Regions from separate parts of the Homo sapiens genome. Here regions 1 and 3 are each linked to region 2. The links come from fine-mapping of genetic effects on gene expression. A gene starts in region 2. Each other region holds a variant in brackets. All regions are shown on one strand. Distances are from middle to middle. Region 1 holds the start of LOC124900164. Region 2 holds the start of SPON2 (spondin 2). Region 3 overlaps LOC124900647 (nascent polypeptide-associated complex subunit alpha, muscle-specific form-like).

Region 1 (8,173 bases), 31 kb before region 2:
AGGCTGGCCCTGCACCCCATCCTGCCTTCTCTCCCCACTGTGGGCCCAGAACTTGCCCCGTGGGGGCCGGGAAGCACCCACCATCCCCACCCCTAGCTGCTCTCAGCCAGAGCCCAGCTGGACTTGCAGGATTGATTTTCCAGCAAAAAACAACAGCAGAGAAACCCAAGAGCAGCTGCATGAGCCCTCCCAGGCCTACCCCCGCAGCCGGCACTCCCTGCAGCAAAGAAAACCATCTGGCCACTGGGCCCTGAGCCCGGCGCCCGGAGGAGGACCTCTGCCCCGCTGAGCAGCTCTGCTCCCCAGGCTGGCCCTGGGCCTCTCGCGGCCTGACCCGCTCCCCTTGGCATCAAGCACCAGGAGGGACGGGGTGGCCCGGCCAGGGCGTGGGTGTTCCCCGGCCCCTCTGAGCACCAGCACCTGGTGAGTCTACCTCCGCTTCCCCAAGCCCTTGACCACTGCCCTGGACAGCCTCAGCCGCCCCCTGACCCGACCTTCAAACGGGCCAAGGGCTTCCCATGTAGGGTCCGAAAACATCCCTGATAGGCAGGACATGAGACTTGAACAATATAAGGTTAGGTGCATCTGTAAGCGCGGCGCATGGTTAGGCAGCCGGACCCTCTGGAGCATGTGTAAGCGCGGCGCATGGTTAGGCAGCCGGACCCTCTGGAGCATGTGTAAGCGCGGCGCATGGTTAGGCAGCCGGACCCTCTGGAGCATGTGTAAGCGCGGCGCATGGTTAGGCAGCCGGACCCTCTGGAGCATGTGTAAGCGCGGCACATGGAAACAGCGGCTCTTCTGGGTGGCCTCTCTGCTGCCCTTTCTTTTTTAAACCAGCTACTGACCCCGTTGGTCAGTGGTAGCAGTGTCTGTAGGATCCCACTGTGGAGGGCTCGCCACTCACTATCCAGGTCCCTGATGCAAGCTGGCTCCAGCTGGGGGTGCCCACTGTGGGGACGCCGGGGCCAGCCGGGGCCAGGGCTGTGGACACTGGTGGGACGGAGGGTGTCGAGCAGCCGGACTCACCCACATCCCTCCCAGCCCCTACAGGCGTCTAGGCCTCCGGCCTCCACCCCCTCTGTGCAGTGGGCAGTCACACCTGGCGGGGCCCGGCTGCCTGCCCAGACAGCAGGTTCTCAGCAGCAGCCCTGGCGTCCCAGGTCAGCCTCTGCCCAGCCCCACATTCACCTGACAGTGCCTCCCGGGCACTGCCCTGCACCTGCCCACACCAACTCCAGCCTCCTCCCCGTGCTCCCCACCCGCCCTGCACCTGCTCACACCTAACCCCATCCACTCCCAAATGACACCATCCACCCCCACCCACCTCCAATTGCCCCACACCTGCCCCACACCTGCCCCCACTGCCTCTTCTCCTGTCCCTATCTCCTCCCACCCTCCATGTGTCTCCCACCTATCCCCTCACCTGCTCACACCTGCTCACACCTGTCTGCCCCTCACCTGTGCACTCGTGGTCAAAGCCATCTGCTTTTACACCTACCCCACACCTGGGGTTCGCCTTAGACTGGGGTTTGTTCTCTGCTGCTGGCGGGGTCCCGGCTCTTCTGCCCCCTGAGGGAGACCTCACAGGGCAAGGCCGCTTCCCTACCATGAGCCTCAGGCCCTGCCTCCCCTCTCCGCCTGCAGAGCTGAGCCTGGGGAGGCTCCTTCTATTCCAAGAGCCCCACTCAGCCCGCTGGGTCCCCGTTCCCTGAGGAGCTGCTGCTTTTGCTGGGCGCCCCAGCCCTCCCACAGGGGACACATCTGTCCTGGAGAGACCACCTAGGGAGGCATTTGCTGTTGGTCCCTGCCCCGGGCCCTCCAGGTCACTCCCTCTTCTCGTCTGTCACAGCGTGGCCCTCTGGCCCCACAACCTGGGCTGCCGGCCTCCCCCTGCCCTGGCAGAGCAGTGGTGGGGCCAGACCAAGGGCTGACAACCGCCAGCCCCTTCAGCTCGGCCTAGGCCCACGGTCAGCCCAGGGGAGCTGGGGGCTGCAGCCGGGTGGGTGAGTGGCACCCGCAGACCCTTGGCAGGGCCCTCTCCAGTCCTGGGTGCCCTGAGAGGCTGCTGGGGTCCAGCTGCTGCCCGCTGGCTCCCGTGGGGGCACACATGAGGAGCAGGGAGGGGGGCATCCTCCTGTTCATGGCCCCGGGTCAGCCTTGGGTAGGGCAGGGTCACCCTGACAGCCCCCAGCCCAGTACCAGGGGAGGAGACCAGGCAGGAGAAGCCCTCCCTGGAAATGCAAACCCAATGCTGGGCGTGGCCTCCTCCCAAAAGCTCCGCCCCCAACCCCCCACTCCCTGGTCAGGGTTGGGGGCCTGGAGGGAGACAGAGGCCAGGAGGCAGCCAGGGGAGCTAGGGGTGGGCATCGGGCGGAGCATGGCTTCCTGCGGCCCCAACCCCCAGGCCCGAGCGAGGAGGTCTCAGAGGCCCCTCCTGGACCTTTCTGCCCATCCAAGCTGAGGGTCCCAGTTTGTCAGCCGAGGGCCTGCACAGCTTCAGGGGTGAGAGGGGCCCCTGGTGGGGCCTGGTCAGGTGTTTGTGGGTGGGACATCTGAGTGAGGGAGCCTGGGCGGGCCTGGAGGCCCTGGGGCCGTGGTGACGCCAGCATCTCCCCTGATCAACACCAAATGATGCCCCTCCCTGGGCCCCCACCCTTCCCAAGGCTGCCGTAGGCACTGCTGGCAAAAGCCTCGGATGCTTGGGCTGGCAGGGAAGGCCAGGCGGCTCCGATGGGGCCTCTGGGGACAGGATTGCGGGAGGCCAGGATCCTCGTTTTTAACCCTGAACCTTAGCACCTCTGCAGGGTCCCCCAGGTGCTGGGCACGGCTCTCCCTGGACAAAGCCCACAGCTCCACGGATGCCAGCTGCAGTTCTAGTAAAGATGTGGACATGGAAACCGAGGGGCAGGGTTTGCCCCTGGGTGCAGCTGCTCCGAGGAGGCCCCAGCTCAAAGGTGCCTCCCCCCATGCCCAGTTCAGGCATCGGGCCTCAGCCAGCGCCACCTCCTGTGTCCAGGAGCTCCGGGCATGGCCTCTTCCCCAGGACCTCAGCCGGGTGCTGTCTCCACCCACAGCCAGTTCCTGTCCATGTGCCCCCAGGGCCCTGCCCTGTGCAAAGTCTGGTCAGCGTTACGGGGAGGGCGTGGCGAGGGCACAGGGAGGGGACAGCTGGGTCTTCCGCCTTAGCCACAGGGACAGGCCAGGCCTCACAGCCAAGAGCCCCGGGAAGAGCTGCATGCACACGGCTGGAGAGAGGCTCTGCACCCGAGCACAGCCTGCTGCGACTCCTCATAGACCCGGAAAACTGATTAGAAGGCAGAGGTGAGTTTCGGAGGGTGGCTGTGCACAAAATTCAGAGTCAGGAATCAGCATCTTTCAAATTCAAGCACTTCCAGTTAGGAGAGACAATGAAGAAAGAAAAGGGACCATTCCCAACAGCAACAAAAATTGTAAATTTCTAGGAGCAAACGGCGGGCACATCTATACCTGTTATAGAGGGTCTGAGGCCTGACTGAGGACCACAGACCAGCAACAAGCCCGGTCTGTCCTGGGCGTCACGAGGTGCCGTCCCTCGTGCTGGCCGGCTGCCACAGCGGGGCCAATTAAAACACCGGAGAACCCTGGAATCAGGTAGATTGATTGTGAAGTTAACGTGGAAAAATAAGTAAGAAAACTAAGGAAATTCTGGAACAAAAGATGAACAAGGGAACCGTGGCCACCAGGTTTTAACACACACCGGAGGCTGCACCTAGGGAGCCCCGTGTGGAGCTGGTGCGTGGGTCGCTCACAGTAACAATGCGAACGGTGAACACGCAGGCATTACAGACACGCCAAAAGGACGTTTTGAATCAGTGAGAGGCTGTGTTCAGATCAGCAGTGCAAAGCCACCCTCCCGGGTCTGTATCCTGCAGACAGTCAGTGCCCGTCTAATATTCTGGGGACCCCTGCACATCAGGCTGAGGTCATGGGGTCACACAGTAGCATTTCTCTGCATTTCTGGCTAATGACTGAGCAGAAAGGATGTGTATCGGCTCCAGGGTAAGGTAGTGAAAAACCAGTGTGCTAAAGAACTCTCACAGCTCAGCAATACAAAGATAAACAACCTAGTTAAAAAATGGGCAAACTGGGAGAGGCCGGGCGCAGTGGCTCACGCCTGTAATCCCAGCACTTTGGGAGGCCAAGCTGGGGGGACCATTTGAGGTCAGGAGTTTGAGACCAGCCTGGCCAACGTGGTGAAACCACATCTCTACTAAAAATACAACAATTAGCCACCACGTGGTGGTGCACGCCTGTAATCCCAGCTACTCAGGAGGCAGAGGCAAGAGAATTGCTTGAACCTGGGAGGCAGAGGTTGCAGTGAGCTGAGATCGCGCCACTGCACTCCAGCCTGGGTGACAGAGAGAGACTCTAACTCAAAAAAAAAAGGCAAAAGAATTTGAATAGATGTTTTTTCCAAATAATATATGCGACCAGCCAACAAGCTCATGACAAGCTGCTTAACACCATTAGCCACCAGGGAAATGCAAATAAAAACCACACGAGACCACACCTCACACCCACTGGGATGGCTGGAACCGAAAGCATCATAGGTGTCAGGG[C/T]GGAGACGTGGGAACCTCACATGCGGCTGTTCTGTTCTTCAAAGTGTGAAGCCGAATTCCATGTGACCCAGCAATCCCACTCCTGGGTACACGTCCCCGAGAATCAGAAACAAAAGCTTATCCACACAAAAGCTTATCCACAAATGTTCCTGGTAGCATTATTCACAATAGCCCAAAGGTGGGCACAGCCTACATGTCCATCTGCTGAGGGACAGATGGGCACATTGTGGCCTGGCCCCACACTATTCTTCACCCGTAAAAAGGAATGAAGCTCTGGCCCATGCTCCAAAGTGGATGAACCTCGCAAACATTTGCCAAGTGAAGGAGGTCAGACGCAGACGGCCACATATCACATGAGACCATTTATGTCAAATGTCTGGAATGGGCAGGTCCACGGTGACACAGAGTAGACTCCCAGCTGCCCGGGGCTGGGGGCGAGGGCACAGCTGGGGGAAAATGGGAAGGGTCTTAGTCCATCCCCGCTGCTGTAACAAAACACCTCAGACTGAGTAATTTATAAGCAACAGAAATTTATTTCCTGTAGTTCTCAAGCTGGGGAGTCCAAGATCCAGGTGCCGGCAGGCTGGGGTCTGCTGAGGGCAGCTCCAATGGCGTATCCAGCCTCACATGGCAGAATTCGGAGGAAAAACAGCCAAGCTAGTTCCTTCTAGCCCTTTTATAAGGGCCCTGAGGACAGAATCATGGCAAGGGATGAGACCCTGGGGCACCTTTGGGACCGCAGAGCTCACTGCCTGCCTGGGTCTCCCCCGATCCTGGCCCAGCCCTCCTTGGCCGCCCCAGCCATGGCTCAGGCAGGTGCAGGCGCAGCTCCAACCATCGCTCCCAAAGGCACATGCGGGGGGCCTTGACGGCATCCACGGGGCGCTGACACTGCAGGCGATGGTGGCCTGCACCCAGATTTCAAAGCATGTTGCTGACAGCCTTGGGGCCCAGGCAGAGGCTCATCGTGGGGTTGGAGCTGCCTCGGAGTCCCCACCGAGGCTATGCCCACCGGAGCTGAGGTGGGGGCTGCCTCCGAGACCCCAGGACTGCAGGGCCACCAGCGAGCAAGCACAGCCTGGGAGAGCGGCAGGCAGGAGACTCCGACCCATGAGCACTGAGTGGGCTGAGCCCACAGAAGCCGTGGGGGCCCAGCCCTGCCCCCATGTGTCTGGAAGGTGGGCAGGGAGTCCAAGATCATCCCCTGTTCATGTATCCTATGAGTCCTGTCCCTCTAGAGAATGCTGACTCATATGATTTTGTATGTGAGAGCGGTGAGTACTGGGCCTGGCGTGCAGTGCCGTGGTTGGAACGTTTCCGTCCTCTAAAGCTCAGGCTGAAACTTAGACCCCGTGGAGTGCCGGGAGGTGGGGACTGATGGGAGGTGTTTGATCCACTCACGAGGCAGAGCCCTTGTGACTAAAGCCACCATGAAAAGGGCTTGTGGGGCAGACCCACCCTCCAGCCGGTGAGGATGCGACGTGCAAGGGCCATCGTGGAAGAGGAGAACCCAACCTTGGCCTCCAGACGGGGAGGCAGGAAGTCTCTGTTGATAAACTGCTGTCTGATGTTCTGTTGTGGCCTCACTCAAACCGTGGCGGGGAGCGGTTGCTAACAGGCACAGGACGTCTTCTGCGGATGATGAACGTGTTCCGGAGTGAGATGAGTGGGGATGGTTGCACAACTTCGTGAACATGCTAAAAACCACTGAATTGTACACTGTAAAGAGTGACTTGTGAGCATGTGAATTTCATCTCAATGAAGCTGTTTTGCGGGAGCCAGGTGAAGCACTGTGGAGGCCACGGCTCAAGAAGGCAGCACCGGCTGGGCGAGGTGGCTCACGCCTGTAATCCCAGCACTTTGGGAGGCTGAGGTGGCTGGATCACGAGGTCAGGAGATCGAGACCATCCTGACTAACACAGTGAAACCCCGTCTCTACTAAAAATACAAAAAAATTAGCCGGGCGTGGCAACCGGCGCCTGTAATCCCAGCTACTCAGGAGGCTGAGGCAGGAGGATGGCGTGAACCCAGGAGGCGGAGCTTGCAGTGAGCCGAGATCACGCCACTGCACTATAGCCTGGGTGACAGAGCAAGACTCTGTCTCCAAAAAAAAAAAAAAGTCAGCATCAGAAAACCAGAAACTGCGCGCGGACCTCAGTGTGGCAGGCACTCCCGGGGTGCAGACGGGGTGAAGGCAGCCTTCTCTGTGGTCACGTGCATGTAACGGCACCTTCTCTCTCAGGGCCTCCTCCCTCCCTGCGTGGTTTGGGGGCTGTTCCTGATAGCACAGATGCCCTGATCACAAACACCTGCCTGCATTGCTGACCACAGGCCTGGCCTGGAGAAACCCACAGCCTCTTCAGGGAAGCGAGCAAGGGGCTTGGAAGTGCCTGAAGCCAGTGGGCTGGGGACTCACGGCCGGGACACTCAGGGCAGGTAGGGCGGGCATGGGGCCCCAGCATGGCACAGGGCCAGACCCACCCCCTCTTTGTCACTGCCCACATACTGCGGGGGGAGGGGCTGGAGGAACTGGGGCACCTGCATTTGGCCTGCAGGGAATCTGGGTCCCGCTGGCTGTGGGTGACCGCAGAGGGCCATGTGGGCAGGGTGCATCCATGGGCGCCCCAGGCCAACCTCGTCAGGGTGGGAGGGGGAAGGGCCAGGAAGCCTCAGCCCAGACCAGGTATGGTGGGAACAGTCCACACGGGAGGGGCCAGAACCGTCTAGAAGGCCCTGGCGTACAGGTCTGCTGCAACAGAGCCAGGAGGGCACGGGGGTGCCCACATCCAGGGCAGAGGCACCACGTGGTGCTCAGTCAGTGGTCAGGGTCAGGCCTGGTTGGTGGCATTGAGGACACTGCAGACTTGGCCCCACCTCCAGGAGCTGGGCTTTCTCCACTTGCTCACAGCAAAGGCAGGGACCAGAGGGGTGGGGGGCTGCACCCACCCTCTCCTCGCTGCTCCCCTCCCCCTTACCACCCCGTCCAGCGATGTCCACGCAGATGGGAGAGTTGTGAGGGTCGTCCACACCTGGCCTGCAGTGGCTGCCCAGCTTCCTGCTAGGGAGATGGGGCCGGTGCTGATGGGGAACAGCTGTTGTGGGGGCAGCCAGAGGAAACCACGTTCCCGTGGGGTGAGCTCATGGTTTACACGTTCCCTGCCAGATCCATAACATCCTGGAGGCAGAAGCGCAGAGGCTGAGCCCGCCCCCGCCCCCGCTGAGCCTCCCCTGCTCTGACACCAGGGCGGCTCAGCCATCCTCGCTTAGCCTGCACCTCCTGTCCTGAAGCCCCTTCCTCCCTCCACTTGCTCCCTCTGTCATTTACTCCCCAGCCCCGACCCACCCTGCTCACCCCTGAAGCTTCTCTGGGTCCTGGACTCCGTTCTGCAGGCTGGACGCCTTCTCAACTGTCCGTGGAGCCTGCCTGGTCTCTGGGGGTGTTGAGTGAGGGGTGACCCAGGAAGAACGTGTCAGAGACAGTGGACAGGGAAGCGTTTCTCACCCCTTAACTCACAGCAGCCCCACCGGGCGGACACAACCATCAACCCAGCCGCAGGTGTAGAAACTGAGGCACA
Region 2 (8,173 bases):
GAATGAAGTGTGTGAATGAATGAATGAAGTGTGTGAATGAACTGTGTGAATGAATGAATGAACTGTGGATGATTGCATGAATGTACTGTATGAATGGATGATTGAATGAATGTACTGTGTGAGTGAATTAGTGCATGAATGTACTGTGTGAATCAATGTACTGTGTGGATGATTGCATGAATGTACTGTGTGAATGGATGATTGAATGAATGTACTGTGTGAGTGAATTAGTGAATGAATGTACTGTGTGGATGACTGCATGAATGTACTGTGTGAATGGATGATTGAATGTACTGTGTGAATGGATGCTTGAATGAATGTACTGTGTGAGTGAATTAGTGAATGAATGTACTGTGTGAATCAATGTACTGTGTGGATGATTGCATGAATGTACTGTGTGAATGGATGAATGAATGTACTGTGTGAGTGAGTGAATGAATGAATGTACTATTTGAATGGGTGGATGAATGAAAGTACTGTGTGAGTGAATGAATGAATGTACTGTGTGTGTATGTGGGGGGCTGCTCCTGCCTGCGGGCACAGAGGAACTCTTCTGTGTGGGTGGGGGGACACCTTGCAAAGTGCTGGTGTGTGAGTTACACCTATGGATACTTATCCTGTGACCCTCAGCAGAAGGCAGGATAGAGACTTCTGGTTCACAGAAGAGGGTCTGAGAGCCAGGGGGGTTTCCAGCAAGACTCTGAGAGCATGGAGTCACACAAGATCACTCCGTCACTGGCCTGCAGTCCCTGCCTCAGTGCAGAAACAGCTCTGCCTGAGACCCCAGCCCGATCCAACCCAAGGGGCCACAGGATCCAGAAAATTAAGCCCACCTGGCCCCAGTTCTCCCATGTCCCCCTCTCTGAGCACAGCAAAGAATGCTCCCATGTCCCCTGGTGCCCTAGGGCCTTCGCAGGCGTGCTTTTGGAGGGGCCTCCCACTACCAAAGGAAGTTCCTCCTGGCTGCTGTCTACTCCAGCCCTCCAAACAAGCCCCCTCCCTTCCCAGACAAATCAGCTGTGGCCCTGCCTGGAGCACCTCCAAGGCCTCGGTCTACCACCACCCCACATCCTAGCTAGAGACCCCCAGGCCTAGGCCCACCACTGCCCTACATCCTAGCTGAAGCCCCCGAGGCCTGGGCCCACCACTACCCTACATCCTAGCTGGAGATCCCCAGGCCTGGGCCTACCACCACCCACATCCTAGCTGAAGCCCCCGAGGCCTGGGCCTACTACCACCCACATCCTAGCTGGAGAACCCCCACCCAGGCCAGGGCCCACCACCACCCTATATCTTAGCTGGAGACTCCCCCCACACAGCCTGGGCCCACCACCACCCACATCCTAGCTGGAGACCCCCCAGCCTGGGCCCACCACCGCCCTACATCCTAGCTGGAGACCCCCCAGCCTGGGCCCACCGCCAAGTGGGGGCCCCAGGTCGCAGAGCTCACTGAGACGGCATGAGGGCCGGGCTGGGAGAACAGCTCCTGCTGCCCCTGGGCTGTTCCGCAGCCTCCTTGGCCTCCTGTGAGACTGGGTGAGCCTGGAAGCCGCTGCCACGGCCAGAGCTGGACTGAGATGGGGACTGTGCCTCAGCGAGTCTCTGGAGCGGCACCCTGGCTTCCTACACAGGAACATGCCCCAGACCCGGCGCCTCCTTCCTCTCCTCAGACCCAGAGCCAGTAGCTTTGCCATGGAGCCTGTGCTCCTTTCAGCCGAGGAAGCTGTCCAGAAAGCGAGGATTGTCCAGGGATGCAGAGTAGCTGCAGTACAGCCGCCCCATGCCGCTCTGGGAAAAAGGCCTGTGGATTCGAGTCCAGCCTCTGAGCAGCGGCTGCCAGTCCTGCTCTGGGGACTCGTGGAGGGCCTGAGATCCTTCCAGGCAGATGATGAGATCGAAGCCCATTGCATGAGGGCACCTTTTGCTCCCATGCTCTGATGGGCACACGGCGGCTTTCGAGGGCTGCAGGCCAGAGCAGGCACCTGACAAGGCTGGTAACATACGCAGCCAAGGCTGGATTTTCTTCATAGACTTCAACCAACAGCACATCTCAGCAGATGAAGTGCTGGAGCCGATATGGGAATCCAGCTTCCACTAAGCCGGACAATACAAAGATTCGCACCAACGTAGAACCACGCCACTTTTCTCAGGCGGGTTTTTCATTTTTAAAAGTATGATTGCTTTTCATAAAACATTATGCTATTTATGTTAATGTGTAATAGCAATATTTTCTTATTTTTAAGTGAATTGGCAAGTATTCTGAACATTTCTGTTATGATTTAGAAAATGATAAGTATCCATAGGTATAACCCATACAAACAAAAAAGTTCTTCAGTGTCCTCAATTAGTTTTTTTTGTTTTTGTTTTTTGTTTTTTTGTTTTTTTTTTTTTTTTGAGATGGAGTCTCGCTCTGTTGCCCAGGCTGGACTGCAGTGGCGCGATCTTGGCTCACTACAACCCCTGCCCCCTGGGTTCAAGAAATTCTCCTGCCTCAGCCTTCTGAGTGGCTGGGATTACTGGCGTGCACCACCACATCCAGCTAGTTTTTGTATTTTTAGTACAGATGGGGCTTCACCATGTTGGCCAGGCTGGTCTCGAGTTCCTGACCTCAAGTGATCCGCCCGCCCTGGCCTCCCAAAGTGCTGGGATTACAGGCATGAGTCTCACTCTGTCGCCCAGGCTGGAGGGCAGTGGCACACACAGTTCACTGCAGGCTTGACCTCCCCTGGCTCAGGTGATCCTCCCACCTCAGTCTCCTGAGTAGCCGGGACCACAGACACAGTCTCCTGACTAGTTGAGACCACAGGCGCACTCCACCACACCCAGCTAATTTTTGTATGTTTTGTAGAGATGAGGTCTCCCTGTGTTGCCAAGGCTGGTATCAAACTCTGGGCTCAAGTGATCCTCCCGCCTCGGCCTCCCAAAGTGCTGGGATTACAGGCATGAGCCACTGCGCCTGGCCCTCAGTGACCTTTAAGAGTATGAAGGAGTCCTCAGATAAAAACATTTGAGAAGCACGGAGGTGGAAATTTGTCTTTGGCCTGGGGGCCTGGAGTCTAAATACTGCATTGAGTGGCTGATCTGTGGTTTTCGCTTAAAATACAGGTTAGATCATTTGTTTCTGTTTGCATTCTGTCCTAGTTGCTTCTATTTATTTTTTCTCTCTTTTTGAATCTGTGAAACATTAACAGGGTTCCAAACATCAGAGTGTTTTGTCTAAGCTTAAAAGCCCTCTGGGTGATTCCGATGAGCAGAGGCCGGGAAGGATTGAGCAAGACCATTCCCGAGCTCCTTCCTCCGCTCTGTTTCCAGATCCCATGACTGGGGACCTATAAATATTTTCCTGACATGGAGCAGGATCAACTTCAGCATCTGTTAGCTTCATCCCAAAGGCAGGGAAGCCTAGAGCCCCTGGGAGGGCTCTGCACCGCACACACCGCCGGCCTGCAGCCCCAGCCCTGTGCGGGGTCCTGGGGAGGGGGGCCCCCTTTCTGTGGCTCTTCCTGACTCCCTGCGCGTTCCACCCCAGACCCTCAGCCCACTCTGACCTCCCTCCAGGAGGGATGGCTTGCAAATGCCCTCTGGCCACAGTGCAGACCGCTAGGCTGTTCTGTGCAGCTTTAGGCCATGCCAGGAAAGAGACTTAAAGCCAGGGCCCCAAAGGCCAGGGATGCCTGCGCCGGGAGCCAGGAGCTTCCCCAGCCACTTCCAGCATGTAGACTGAAGTCAGGCCACGCACAGGGCTCTCCAGGTCACACCCTGCGCAAGAAGGTGTAGCACGCTGGCTCTAATTTCGAGAAGGTGAAAACAAGAGCCCCTCTGCCCCCACGCCCTGAGCTTTCCCGAAAGGCTTGGGGCAAAGAACTCCCCTCAGTGGCACCTAGGGAGGCACCAGGAAGGCGCTTGTTGGAACGGGAGAGAAACGGGGAGAGGGAGGAGGACAGGGGGGAGGGGAGGAGGGGAGGGGAGGAGGGGAGGGGAGGAGGGGAGGGGAGGGGAAGGGAGGGGACAGGGAGGGGAGGGGAGGGATAGGACAGACAGACAAAGAAAGGGGTGCGGCAGCACTGCCAGGGGAAGAGGGTGATCCGACCCGGGGAAGGTCGCTGGGCAGGGCGAGTTGGGAAAGCGGCAGCCCCCGCCGCCCCCGCAGCCCCTTCTCCTCCTTTCTCCCACGTCCTATCTGCCTCTCGCTGGAGGCCAGGCCGTGCAGCATCGAAGACAGGAGGAACTGGAGCCTCATTGGCCGGCCCGGGGCGCCGGCCTCGGGCTTAAATAGGAGCTCCGGGCTCTGGCTGGGACCCGACCGCTGCCGGCCGCGCTCCCGCTGCTCCTGCCGGGTGAGTACTGCGTGCCCCCGGGACACCCAGAGAGGGCCCGGGCCTCCTGCACTTTCCCCGCGGCCCAGAACCTTGTGGCACCTCCAGAGGGACCCCCAGGACTGGCTGCGACCGAGCTTTAAGGGTCTAGTCCCGGGGGCAGCCAGTCGGCCAAGGCCCCGGGTCCCTGCGACGGCGAAGGCATCCCGGAGGCCGCACCCAGACCGGCCCGGCAAGCTGCAGGGACTCGGACTGAAAACCTGCCCGTTACCCCTGGTCGCTCGCAGGCGCACGGGCGATCTAACCCCGCGCCGTCCATTCCGCTGATGGGGGTCTCGGAAGCACCGCAGGAGAGCTTTGCGGAGCAGGGAGGGGGTCGCGGGTGCTCGGGGCCGTCCTCAGAGCCCAAAGTGCCGCAGCCCTCTCGGCTTTCCACCCCGAGGCTGCCACGACGGTGCCAGCGCGCGGCTGCTCCCCTCTGTGCTCCCAGGTGATGGAAAACCCCAGCCCGGCCGCCGCCCTGGGCAAGGCCCTCTGCGCTCTCCTCCTGGCCACTCTCGGCGCCGCCGGCCAGCCTCTTGGGGGAGAGTCCATCTGTTCCGCCAGAGCCCTGGCCAAATACAGCATCACCTTCACGGGCAAGTGGAGCCAGACGGCCTTCCCCAAGCAGTACCCCCTGTTCCGCCCCCCTGCGCAGTGGTCTTCGCTGCTGGGTAAGTACAGCCCCCTCCTCGCCTCCTGCTCCACCAGGAGGGCTGCGGCGCCGGAGCCCCCCGCACAGCTGCACGGCGGCGCTTCCCAGTCTGGGGCGTGCTGACGTCGGGAGACTCTAACACCAGAATGTTTGCCGAGCGCCTGCGGTGTGCGGTTCCGGGGATGCGGTGGGGGCAGGGGGCGCTCACGGGGAGGGCGCAGGTGGGTCGCGGCAGGGGCAGCCACAGGGTGTCACGGTCCGACGTGACTGGGGGCCATGGTTCCCTGCGGGCGGCGGGGAGGGATTTCCTGGGGCGCCCCCTGGAATCCAAGCCCGACCGCAGTGTCTGACCATGGTCCGCGGCGCGGCCGGGTGGTCCTGCAGGGGCCGCGCATAGCTCCGACTACAGCATGTGGAGGAAGAACCAGTACGTCAGTAACGGGCTGCGCGACTTTGCGGAGCGCGGCGAGGCCTGGGCGCTGATGAAGGAGATCGAGGCGGCGGGGGAGGCGCTGCAGAGCGTGCACGCGGTGTTTTCGGCGCCCGCCGTCCCCAGCGGCACCGGGCAGACGTCGGCGGAGCTGGAGGTGCAGCGCAGGCACTCGCTGGTGAGCGCGGGGCCGGCCGGGGGCGGGGTCCGGGGGGCCGGGGCCAGGCGCGCTGAGCCGCTGTCGCCGCAGGTCTCGTTTGTGGTGCGCATCGTGCCCAGCCCCGACTGGTTCGTGGGCGTGGACAGCCTGGACCTGTGCGACGGGGACCGTTGGCGGGAACAGGCGGCGCTGGACCTGTACCCCTACGACGCCGGGACGGACAGCGGCTTCACCTTCTCCTCCCCCAACTTCGCCACCATCCCGCAGGACACGGTGACCGAGGTGAGTGGGCACCCCGCGTGCGCAAGGGCCGCTATGGCCCCCGCGGTGGGGACGGGGCTGGGGCCTGGCTGCACCCTCGCCTCCCAGCCCAGGACAGCCGCTTGCGGCTTTTGTGTGGAAGAGGCTCTGCTTCTAGCGCCAGCAGTGAGCAAGGGGGTGCAGCCCTCCCATACTCTCCCAACCCGGGGTCACAGCACCGCAGGGAGGACAGCGGGACGCGCGTCCCGAGGAGGCTGCCCCTTCCTGGCCTCGGTTTCCAGCCCGTGTTCCGTGGGATGGCTGAGAGGAGTACATGGGACCCTGTCCCCAACAGTGGTGCAGAGGGCACGCTGGACGCTGGGCAGTGGCCCCAGTGAGGCCATACGCATACCAGAAGGTGGGCTTCTCGGACCCCAGGCCAACCTCCTCTTCTTCCTCCCCAGATAACGTCCTCCTCTCCCAGCCACCCGGCCAACTCCTTCTACTACCCGCGGCTGAAGGCCCTGCCTCCCATCGCCAGGGTGACACTGGTGCGGCTGCGACAGAGCCCCAGGGCCTTCATCCCTCCCGCCCCAGTCCTGCCCAGCAGGGACAATGAGATTGTAGACAGCGCCTCAGGTAACGGACATACAGGTCACATGGGACACACAGCAGCCCCGAACCCTGCCACAGGGCGACCACCAAACCCGAACCTAAGGCTCTGAGAAATTCCAAGTAGGGATTCGTAGTGCGTACTGCAAGATGGTGCCTAGAAGATTTAGGATTCTGTTGATTCACACACTGAAGATGTGACTCTTGCACATTATTTGCAGTTGAAAGCATCTTACAGGGCCACAGCCCAGAGGAAAGAATGAAAGGAGGCTCCAGACAGTACCTGAGAGACTCTGTCCTGTCAGACACGCACCCACAGGTGACCTGTGTGTCACAGCTGACAAGGAAGCTTGCTAGGATGGCCCTGTGTGGCCACCGGGTGACAGCTATGCTGCAGGGCACCTGTGGGGGTCTCGGGACCCAGCCACCACACAGCTCGGGGCTCTGCTCACAGGCGCCTTGGCCTGGGGCGGGGCAGGTGCTGATGAGCATTCTCCTAGCTCTTCCAGGCACCTGCTGGACAGGGCAGGCTGGGAACGCTGGGGCCGAGTGGCAGTTCCCTCCCTACTCAGCTGGGTGGCAGCCACTGGCCTCACGGAGCGCCTGTGGTCTGGAGCGCATTGCTGGGTCGTGGGTCAGGGCCTGTTGGCTCTGGGTCTCTGGGTCTCACCTGATATGGGTGTGGGACAGTCAGTGTAGGCCCCAGACAACAGCGGACTTCAGACTTTCCCGAGGAGGAACTGGAGCCCACCAACCTGGCCATGGGCCCCGTCGTCCTCCACCCTCCATGTTGCTGGCTGGAGTTGAGGCAGGTACGGGGCCGCCCCACACCTGCCCCCCAAGCCATGTGGTAGGGACAGATGTCGTCTTGAGGAGCAGCAGTAATTACAAGCTTACTGTCAGCCGTCCCTGGAAGCAAGGGCCAGGTCAGGTCAGACAGGAGGCCGCCTGGCTGGCGGGAACCACTCCCCAGACAGAGACTGTGCCCAGTCCTGGGTCCCTCCTCATTTGGGATGAACTGGGCCTCCCTGTGCCAGCCTCGGTGCTGCCCCTGCCCAGTGCAGGCTTGGGCTCCTCACTCATTTGTCCACGCGGATGCCCCATTCCAAGCAGATGTCCCCGAGCCACTTACCCAACAGGCAGACGTGCCAGCACTGTTCGTGGTGTGCAACTGGTCTGGCGGGAAGAGCCCCTCGTGGGCAGAGGGTCCAGAGAGGTGCGGTTTGCCCCACATTTGGGGGCACTGGGCCACAGTGGGCAGGGGAGCACATGGCCAGTGCCCTGGGCTAGGAGAGGGATAAAGTCAGCTGTGGCCAAGCAGAAGCAGTATTGCAGGGGAAGGGTGGGGAGAGACTGTGCTATGAGCTCTGAGCAGGAGGCAGGACATGGAGAGAAGGGTGGGAGACGGACAGAGCCAGCTGTGCCAGCCGAGGGACCAGAGTGGGCAGTGGGGACGGAGCACAGACCACCGCCCACAAGGGTCTCTCCTGTGACTTCTGGCTTCCCGAGGGCAGAGGCTGGGATGGGCATGTGGCGGCTGGCACCCAGGAGGCTCCGCCAGGTCCACGCCAAGCCAGCCTGGCTCAGCTCTGGCTTCCTGCTCACACGCTGGATGCCTGTCCCCAGGCCTCCTGACAGGGCTCTGCAGCATTGGAGAGGCTTGTGGTGGGGCCCTCGCTGTAGAACAGGCACTGCCAGTGCTCACTGACTCCTCATTGCAG
Region 3 (8,173 bases), 22 kb after region 2:
TCCGTCGATCTGTCCACACTCACGTCACTGAGAAGCAGTGTAGTCAGACAGCCCAGGCCCTCGGCTGCCAGCACTTGCTCCAAACCACACGATGCATTCTTTCCATCTTCCCACTTCTTTCCAGAGTGCTCAAAAGGGCTCGCTGAAGCATTCTCATGATGGTGCACTCACATACAAAAAACAAGCGTGTGCAAAAATGTGAGCACGTGAGCTTTGCAGCCGAGCTAGCTGTTCTCTGCCACTGTCAAATGCCCGGTCCCCGTGATGCAGTCCTGCAGTGATTAGTCACATAAGACGTTGCACTGGGGGCGTTGACGAATGGGTCACAGGACCTCTGCACTATTTTTGTAACTTTTTGTTAGTCTACAGACATTTTTAAATAAAAGGTTTAAAGAGAAAACACCGGATGTCGCAGCTGAAAAGACCTAATGGATCACTAAGTGATTTTCACTCCTTTTTTAAATGAGGAAACAGACTTAGTCTCTTCAGGGCACGCGCTCTTCCTAGTCCAGGTGGTTCCACTTTAGCCAGGTTCCCTTCCTCCCACCCACAGGTCCACACCCACCTCCCCCGCACCCAGACTCCTCCCAACCCAGCCTTCCCCCGGCACCCGGCCTCCCCCAACACACCCAAACTCCCTCCCACACACCCAGCTCTCCCCCACCCACCCAGACTCCCTTCACACACCCAGACTCCTCTCACACACCCAGCCTCCCCCAACATACCCAGACTCCCCCCAGACACCCAAACTCACCCCTTACACCCAGCCACACCCCCCCACACCTAGCCTCCCCACCGCACCCAGCCTCCCCTCGACATGCCTAGCCTCACCCCCACACCCAGCCTCCCTCCCCTCCTGCCTACACCTGCCTCCCCATCTCTCATTTCTCATACTCCATGACACCATCTTCATTAGAAGCTTCTTCACTCCATCAGAATGCTTCAACATCTTTTCAGTGGCGGATCAGAAAGAACTCTGCATCATCAGCTTGGAAAGGCCCCAAATTCTTACGCCTTTTTATCTTGTTCGTCGGATTTGCTGCAAGTATCTGCCCAGTGTCAGCGCCACGTGTCACTTCTCACAAAAATCAATTTTACAAAATTAGCCAGTGAAATACAAACACCCACTAACCAGTGGCACTTGCAACGGATCCATTTCAAAGAAAGTATTATCAGAAGTGGCTCAAGCAACAGAAATGCAAATGTTAACATTTCTTTTATGTTTTGGTTTTCCATTTTCAACTGCCTTTTATTTCCACGCAGGGGAACGTGAGGAGAAATGCCTAATAGAAGACATTCCAAGCGACACACTGGTAACAGGTAAGTAAAATGTGCTCGGTTAAATGTTGAACTCCAGAAGTGGTTTTACAGAATTCTGCCATCCTCTACGTCCATATTACTTGGCAGTGAACATAATGCTGCATGGTTTTCTCTTGATCATTTATCAAGTTATTCAAACCTAACAGCCTTAAGAGTGAATGGTAAAATTCATAAAACAGGAAATCTGGACAGTGTTCCCTGGAATCCAAGCTTGATTTGTTTTCCAGTTGTCAATGTTCCTCAGTAAAAGCATCTTGGATGCCATTTCTCACTCTAATAGTGGTTGAACATTCAAAACGTACGTGAGGTCTTTAGACTGTGCAGCAAGACAGGAGCACAAGTCGCACGTCCTCTGTGCCCTGACCTCCTGGTGTCCACAGAGCCATGGGGAGAAGGCATCGTGGTGGGTGTGCAAGTGCAGATCGGAGACTGTTTTCCAAGCAAACGGCTAGTAAAAGCTGCTAACACCATGGTGAGTTCCACACGTTTCCCACACTGCCACCAAGCACAGCCCCACACAGCTGAGCTTCACCTGCCTTCTGAGAAAGAAACAAGTACCTGTGGTGTCAGAACGGTGTAGAAAATCCAGAATATGCTTAACATTTAGGCCACAATCAACATCAAATTCCCGGGTTTTAATGCAAAAAAAAAAAAAAAAAAAAAAGGAGGGGGAGTAGGAAGAAGAGAATCTAGTGATATTCCTCACAAGTGCTGATTACGTATTTTATATCCCATTCAATCTTACAATGAATACTGTTGAATCCTCTTTTCAATTTATCTTGGTCATTACCTTTGAGTGTGCTATTGCAAAAAGTAATGACCCATCCTGCGAAAGATTAAGTAAATGCATCAAGCATGGAGGCAGAGAAAGAAACAGAGCAATGTGAGATCAAGTTTTGGGATGAGTAGCATGGAAAAAATAGCCAGGAAGAGAGCTGGGTGGTCTTAGAGCCCTCGCTGCTGCTCCGACACTGTGGATGAAGCCATATTTGGGACTCTGGAGTCTGTACAAGCCTGCCTGGATCCAAATCCCAGTCTGTCACCTGAGAGCTGTGTGCCACTGGGCAAGTGACTTACCCTCTGTTTAATTTGTGAAATGCAATGATGATTAAAAAAACAAACATCTATTTCTGTTGGTTGTGCTGATGATTAGGTTACTCTTTGTAAGGCTTTTACAACCTAACCCAGCTCACAGAAAGTACTGTGTTTGCTCAACACGTTCTCTGAGCCCAACGATCTCATCCCACGGGAAGCTTGGCCCCTGAGGTAAATAGCCCTGGGTAGCCGGCTGTTTTCCTGGTAACATATGAATTTTCCAGCCTGCAGTTGAAGGGGCAGAAGAAGAGGAAGGGGGACAGTGCTGGCCTGTCCACTTGCCTGTTGCCTCATGGCCCATCAGCTGGATGGGCTCACCCAGGACCCACTGGGACATCTCAAGGAACTGCAGCCACCTGAGCCACGGCGGCACTGGCAGCAGGAAGGCAAGTGTGGCTAGAGAGTGTCCTGACAGCTGTGTCAAGACAGGGTCTCAGTGATGACACCACGGTCCATCTAAAGTGGCTGGTGCCATCATGCCAGCTGCAGCAGGGAGGCACAGCCAGGGCTGCATGCTCCATGGAACTGGCAGGAGCTGCGGACAAGCAGGAGCCCTGCCCCTTCCGAGTTGGGTGGTAGCTCTCTGCAGACTTAGGCATCCCTGTGCTCTCGGGCCGGGAGCAGATGGGTGCCCCACTCTCCTGGGCACAGCTGCAGCCACTGAAGTCACAGCTGTAGACCCAGACCTCCTGCTCCACAGAGCAGGCAGAAGCCCCACCCAAGTCCCAGCTGCAGATCCAGGCCTTCTGCTCCATGGAGCAGGCAGGAGCCCCACCCCTCTGGGCACAGATGCAGCTGCCCAAGTCATGGCTGCAGACCCAGGCATCCCTGTGCTCCTGGAAGCCGGGAGCAGAGAGAAGCCCCTCTCCTAGGCGCAGCTACAGCCACCCAAACCATGGCTGCAGACCCAGGCATCTCTGCACTCTAGGGGGCCCAGGAAGCCCCATCCCCGGCCTTCGCAGGTTTGGAAGTGCCTGCTTCTGCTGCCTGGCTTCTCCCTGCTGTCAGTGTCCACTTTGATCTCAGAGTAAAGTCAGGGCGAGCCTGGGCACTGTTGCAGCCTGGCCAGGTGTGCACACGCTCAGGGCAGTGCTAATACACCAGCCCCCTGCTGCCTCAGCACCCTCCAGACTTTAAGCACCGAGAATAGGAGGGAAGCCAAGGGTGGGCTGAGGGTAGCTTGGCACTGGCCTGCAGGCACCCCTTGGCACCTATAGCCTGGACACCATGAATAGCAGCAGGACGCAGACAAGTTCCTGGGTGGAAGAGGGCAGGTCCCTGGTGAGGCCCCCACCTTCAGGCCAGGGAGGTCCTGAAGGCTGGGGACTGGGCTGCCAGTCCTGCAGACCAGAGTGGGAACTTCTGGTGCCTTTACCCATGACTGCCAATGTACCAATCACAGTGCACTTCCTCCCCTCTAAGGCCCATAAAAGCCCTAGGCTCAACCAGAGCTGAGCAGACATCAGGGCAACCAGATGCAGAGAGGAGCTACCCATTCCATGGCCTCCTCTCTGCTGAGAGCTGGGGAGACAACAAGAGGACCTGCCTGCAGAGAGCAACAGCCCACTCCAGGGCCTCCTCTCTGCTGAGAGC[C/T]GCAGGCACAAAGGGATGGCCCGTCTGCAGACAGGAGCAACCCACTCCAGGGCCTCCTCTCTGCTGAGAGCCTCAGAGATGACAGGATGGCCTGCCTGCCAAGAGGAGCTTCCCACTCTACGGTCTCCTCTGTGCTAGGAGCTGAACACGCGTTGTGACACCCTGGCTGTGGAAAGGAGCTGCCCCTGCGGGTCTCCTCTGAGCCGTTGTATCGCTCAATAAAGCTCGTCTTCCTCTTGCTCACCCTCCACTTGTCTGCAGACCTCATTCTTCCTGGTCACAGGACAAGAACTTGGGACCCGTCAAATGGCAAGGCTAAAAGAGCTGGTATAACACAAACAGGGCTGAGACATGCCCCTTGCTTGCCATGCTATGGGGGAAGAGAAGGAGAGAAGAGCTGCAGCCCTTCAGGGAGCCTAGACTTGGGAGCCCCCCAGGCCAGGAACAAGCAGGAGCCCTGCCCCTTCTGAGTTGGACTCCCTCTTTGGGGCCCTGTGGTTCCTGGCATACTGCATTCCCCAGTGCCAGCTGTGGAAGCTGCTTGCAGTGCACCTGGTCCAGCTGCAGCCTTGCAGAGAGTGGGCGCCCATGCCAGCACTGGAGCTGCCCACCTTGCAGCAGCTGCGGGTGTGCCTGACTGCACAGTGGCTGGACCCCATGCTCACTCACACACCCCTCACTGCTCTGTGCCTGACTCGCTCTTGGCAGGTGTGGGATCCAGGCCAGTAGCGTGAGTTGAGTGCAGCATGCCAGGCTGAGTGGGCAGAACAAGCCCAGTGGGCCCAAGCAAAACTCGGGCAAGGGTGCCACCAGCCACAGAAGTTTCCAGCTAGAAATGTGACACCCCAAGGATCCTCTGGCAAGCGGTCCCATCTGGCTGGAAGACCAGGGCCCACTGTGGCTGGCTCCCTCACCCAAGTCAGGAGCCTCTGGAGTCCTCCTTCCCACGGATGCTGCTGTCCACGCCTCCCTCCTCAGTTCCTGCCAAGGCTCTTCTCTGACTGACTGCTCCTCCTCACCTGGTCTTCCCAAGCCTCCCTACTCTCTGTTCTTCCCACTCAGCAGTCTCCTTAACCATCACCCTTGGGCAATTATTTAGATTTAGAGCTTGGCTACTTAAAACTCACTGTTATGGAAAACTTTGAAAGTGCATCAGGGCCAGGCATGGTGGTTCACACCTGTAATCCCAGCACTTTGGGAGGCCGAGGCATGTGATCACTTGAGGTCAGGGGTTCAAGACCAGCCTGGCCAACATGGTAAAACCCCGTCTCTACTAAAAATACAAAGAAGAAAAAAAATTAGCCAGGAGTAGTGGTGGACACCTGCAGTCCTGGCTACTTGGGAGGCTGAAGCAGAAGAATCACTTGAACCCAGGAGGCAGAGGTTGTAGTGAGCCGAGATCGCGTCACTGCACTCCAGCCTGGGTGACAGAATGAGACTCCATCTCAAAAAAAAAAAAAAAAAAAAAAGGCGCATCAGGCCACAGTTTTAACTTTTCTTTAAAAGAGAACAGTATGCCCTTAAAGTCCAAGAGCTACAGACTGGTCCTGGAAGCCATCCTGTGGGTCTGGTGCTCCTCACCCACTGCCCTGTGGTGGAGGAGCCCACACCTGCCCCACACCCTAGTGCCAAGGGAGCCTCTGCACTGGCGCTCTGGGGTGGCTGCTCGCCTTTTCCTTGCCGGGGAGCACAGCCCACAGCTGTCCATAGTGCAGGAACTACATCTCCACAACTGTATCCAATCATCCTTGTTCTGCCATCTGGGTCCACTCAAAATAAATACACATTTTTTCACCTGAAAGTCCGTCATAACTGAAGTCACAGATTCCACCCATCCCAGATTTCTCTTTGCAGGCTAACTCTCCTTAGTTGCCAAGTGCGCGGTTTTGCTCCAGTTTGTAACACACATGCGTGAAAGTATCTCGTTTGGGTCAAGCTAAGAGCTGGGAGCTGAAGACTCTGTAGGGCAAGACAGGCGAGCTCCCTGGGCCTGCCCCTGCCCCTGCCCCTGACTGCATTCAGCAAAGAAGCCGCAAAGCATGTAACCCAAGAAAGAAGAACTCACCGCTGACCCAGGACAGCCAGCCCAGAGGAGGCCGAGGGAGCAGGCTGTGGAGACTGAGGCAGGAGGGTGGAAGGCTCTGGCAAAAACGGGGGATGGGCATAAGACAAAAGAAGACTATTACTCAGACATGGAAAAACCGAGGACAGAAAATGGGCAAATCGTACAAGGAGAGAAAAGCAAACCAAACTCATCAAAACCAATTAAACAAACAACCACAAGTAAGTCATGGTCCAAATATGATGCCCTCAATTTCCCACAGATTGAGTGGTGCGAAGCTGGCTGGGGGGAGAGCCGGGATTGGCCTTTTACCTTGGCTGCTTTGGTCTACCAGCAGGCTGCTGGGACACAGGCCCTGTGCTGGGGGACGGGGATGGGGACAGGAGGATATCTGGGTCCCCTTCCCAGTTTCATGTCGCTCATAAAAGTGGTCATTTTGCTCTGTGTCAGCAGGGACACTTCCGGTTTGAAGGTGTATTAGGACTGAATGAGCTCTTTGAGGGCATGAACTCTTCTATTAACCTTTGTATCCCCAAAGCCTATTGCAGTGCCTGGCACATGTGGAGTGAGTGCTTTTAATCAGAACTGAACAAACTGCAGGATGAACTGTGGTTCTAAGACTTCCACACACATTGAGACGAATTTGAAAGTCAGATTCTAATTACAAGCATGCAGCCAGATGTGGATGCATCTCACTTCTTGACTTGGCTGAAAACTAACATACAAAAGCCTTTCTGAAATCCATTTCCATGATATCCACGGTGTTCTAAACTCTCCCTGTCAGTGCCATTTCCATGATATCCATGGTGTTCTAAACTCTCGCTGTGGGTGCCATTTCCATGATATCCACGGTGTTCTAAACTCTCCCCATCAGTGCCATTTCCACGATATCCATGGTGTTCTAAACTCTCCCCATTGGTGCCATTTCCATGATATCCACGGCGTTCTAAACTCTCCCCGTCGGTGCCATTTCCATGATATCCACGGTGTTCTAAACTCTCGCTGTGGGTGCCATTTCCATGATATCCACAGCGTTCTAAACTCTCGCTGTCAGTGCCATTTCCATGATATCCACGGTGTTCTAAACTCTCGCTGTCAGTGCCATTTCCATGATATCCACGGTGTTCTAAACTCTCGCTGTGGGTGCCATTTCCATGATATCCACAGTGTTCTAAACTCTCCCTGTTGGTGCCATTTCCATGATATCCACGGTGTTCTAAACTCTCGCTGTCAGTGCCATTTCCATGATATCCACGGTGTTCTAAACTCTCGCTGTCAGTGCCATTTCCATGATATCCACGGTGTTCTAAACTCTCGCTGTGGGTGCCATTTCCATGATATCCACGGTGTTCTAAACTCTCCCTGTTGGTGCCATTTCCATGATATCCACGACGTTCTAAGCTCTCCCTGTCGGTGCCATTTCCATGATATCCATGGTGTTCTAAACTCTCGCTGTGGGTGCCATTTCCATGATATCCACGGTGTTCTAAACTCTCGCTGTGGGTGCCATTTCCATGATATCCACGGTGTTCTAAACTCTCCCTGTTGGTGCCATTTCCATGATATCCACGACGTTCTAAGCTCTCCCTGTCGGTGCCATTTCCATGATATCCATGGCGTTCTAAACTCTCCCTGTCAGTGCCATTTCCATGATATCCATGGTGTTCTAAACTCTCGCTGTGGGTGCCATTTCCATGATATCCACGGCGTTCTAAACTCTCCCTGTCGGTGCCATTTCCATGATATCCACGGCGTTCTAAACTCTCCCCGTCGGTGCCATTTCCATGATATCCATGGCGTTCTAAGCTCTCCCCGTCGGTGACATTTCCATGATATCCACGGCGTTCTAAACTCTCCCCATCGGTGCCATTTCCATAATATCCACGGCGTTCTAAACTCTCCCCATCGGTGCCATTTCCATGATATCCATGGCATTCTAAGCTCTCCCCGTCGGTGCCATTTCCATGATATCCACGGCGTCCTAAGCTCTCCCCATCGGTGCCATTTCCATGATATCCACAGCATTCTAAACTCTCGCTGTCGGTGCCATTTCCATGATATCCACAGTGTCCTAAGCTCTCCCCGTCGGTGCCATTTCCATGA

What was found. PIP is the estimated chance that this variant, and not a neighbour inherited with it, causes the effect.
Region 1: its variant is fine-mapped to the expression of SPON2 in whole blood (TOPMed, PIP above 0.99).
Region 3: its variant is fine-mapped to the expression of SPON2 in nasal epithelium (TOPMed, PIP above 0.99).

The regions. Positions count from the first base shown.
Region 1 is chr4:1,200,130-1,208,302 of GRCh38, reverse strand. It overlaps LOC124900164, which reads left to right and starts at 7,046. Exons shown (of 1, transcript XM_047416479.1): 1 at 7,046-7,677. The coding sequence starts at 7,046. The coding sequence ends at 7,660. LOC100130872 (a long non-coding RNA gene) reads left to right here. Exons shown (of 4, transcript NR_024569.1): 2 at 3,187-3,321; 3 at 6,841-7,034. It also overlaps a transcript of LOC124900647 not described here and a transcript of SPON2 not described here. RefSeq lists enhancers at 5,956-6,155, 7,396-7,615, 8,111-8,173. The variant C/T (reference allele first, on the strand shown) is at 4,599.
Region 2 is chr4:1,168,708-1,176,880 of GRCh38, reverse strand. SPON2 (spondin 2) reads left to right here and starts at 4,298. Exons shown (of 6, transcript NM_012445.4): 1 at 4,298-4,337; 2 at 4,807-5,029; 3 at 5,395-5,618; 4 at 5,691-5,882; 5 at 6,305-6,479. The coding sequence starts at 4,810. The region is part of intron 1 of LOC124900647 (nascent polypeptide-associated complex subunit alpha, muscle-specific form-like); the gene reads right to left. RefSeq lists enhancers at 3,685-4,402, 4,403-5,118.
Region 3 is chr4:1,146,750-1,154,922 of GRCh38, reverse strand. All of the region lies in intron 1 of LOC124900647 (nascent polypeptide-associated complex subunit alpha, muscle-specific form-like), which reads right to left. It overlaps LOC124900837 (hornerin-like), which reads right to left. Exons shown (of 2, transcript XM_047416541.1): 2 at 1,223-8,173. The coding sequence ends at 6,763. Among named protein-coding and RNA genes, the nearest start is that of SPON2, 22 kb to the left of the region's middle. RefSeq lists enhancers at 4,164-4,664, 4,665-5,165. The variant C/T (reference allele first, on the strand shown) is at 4,009.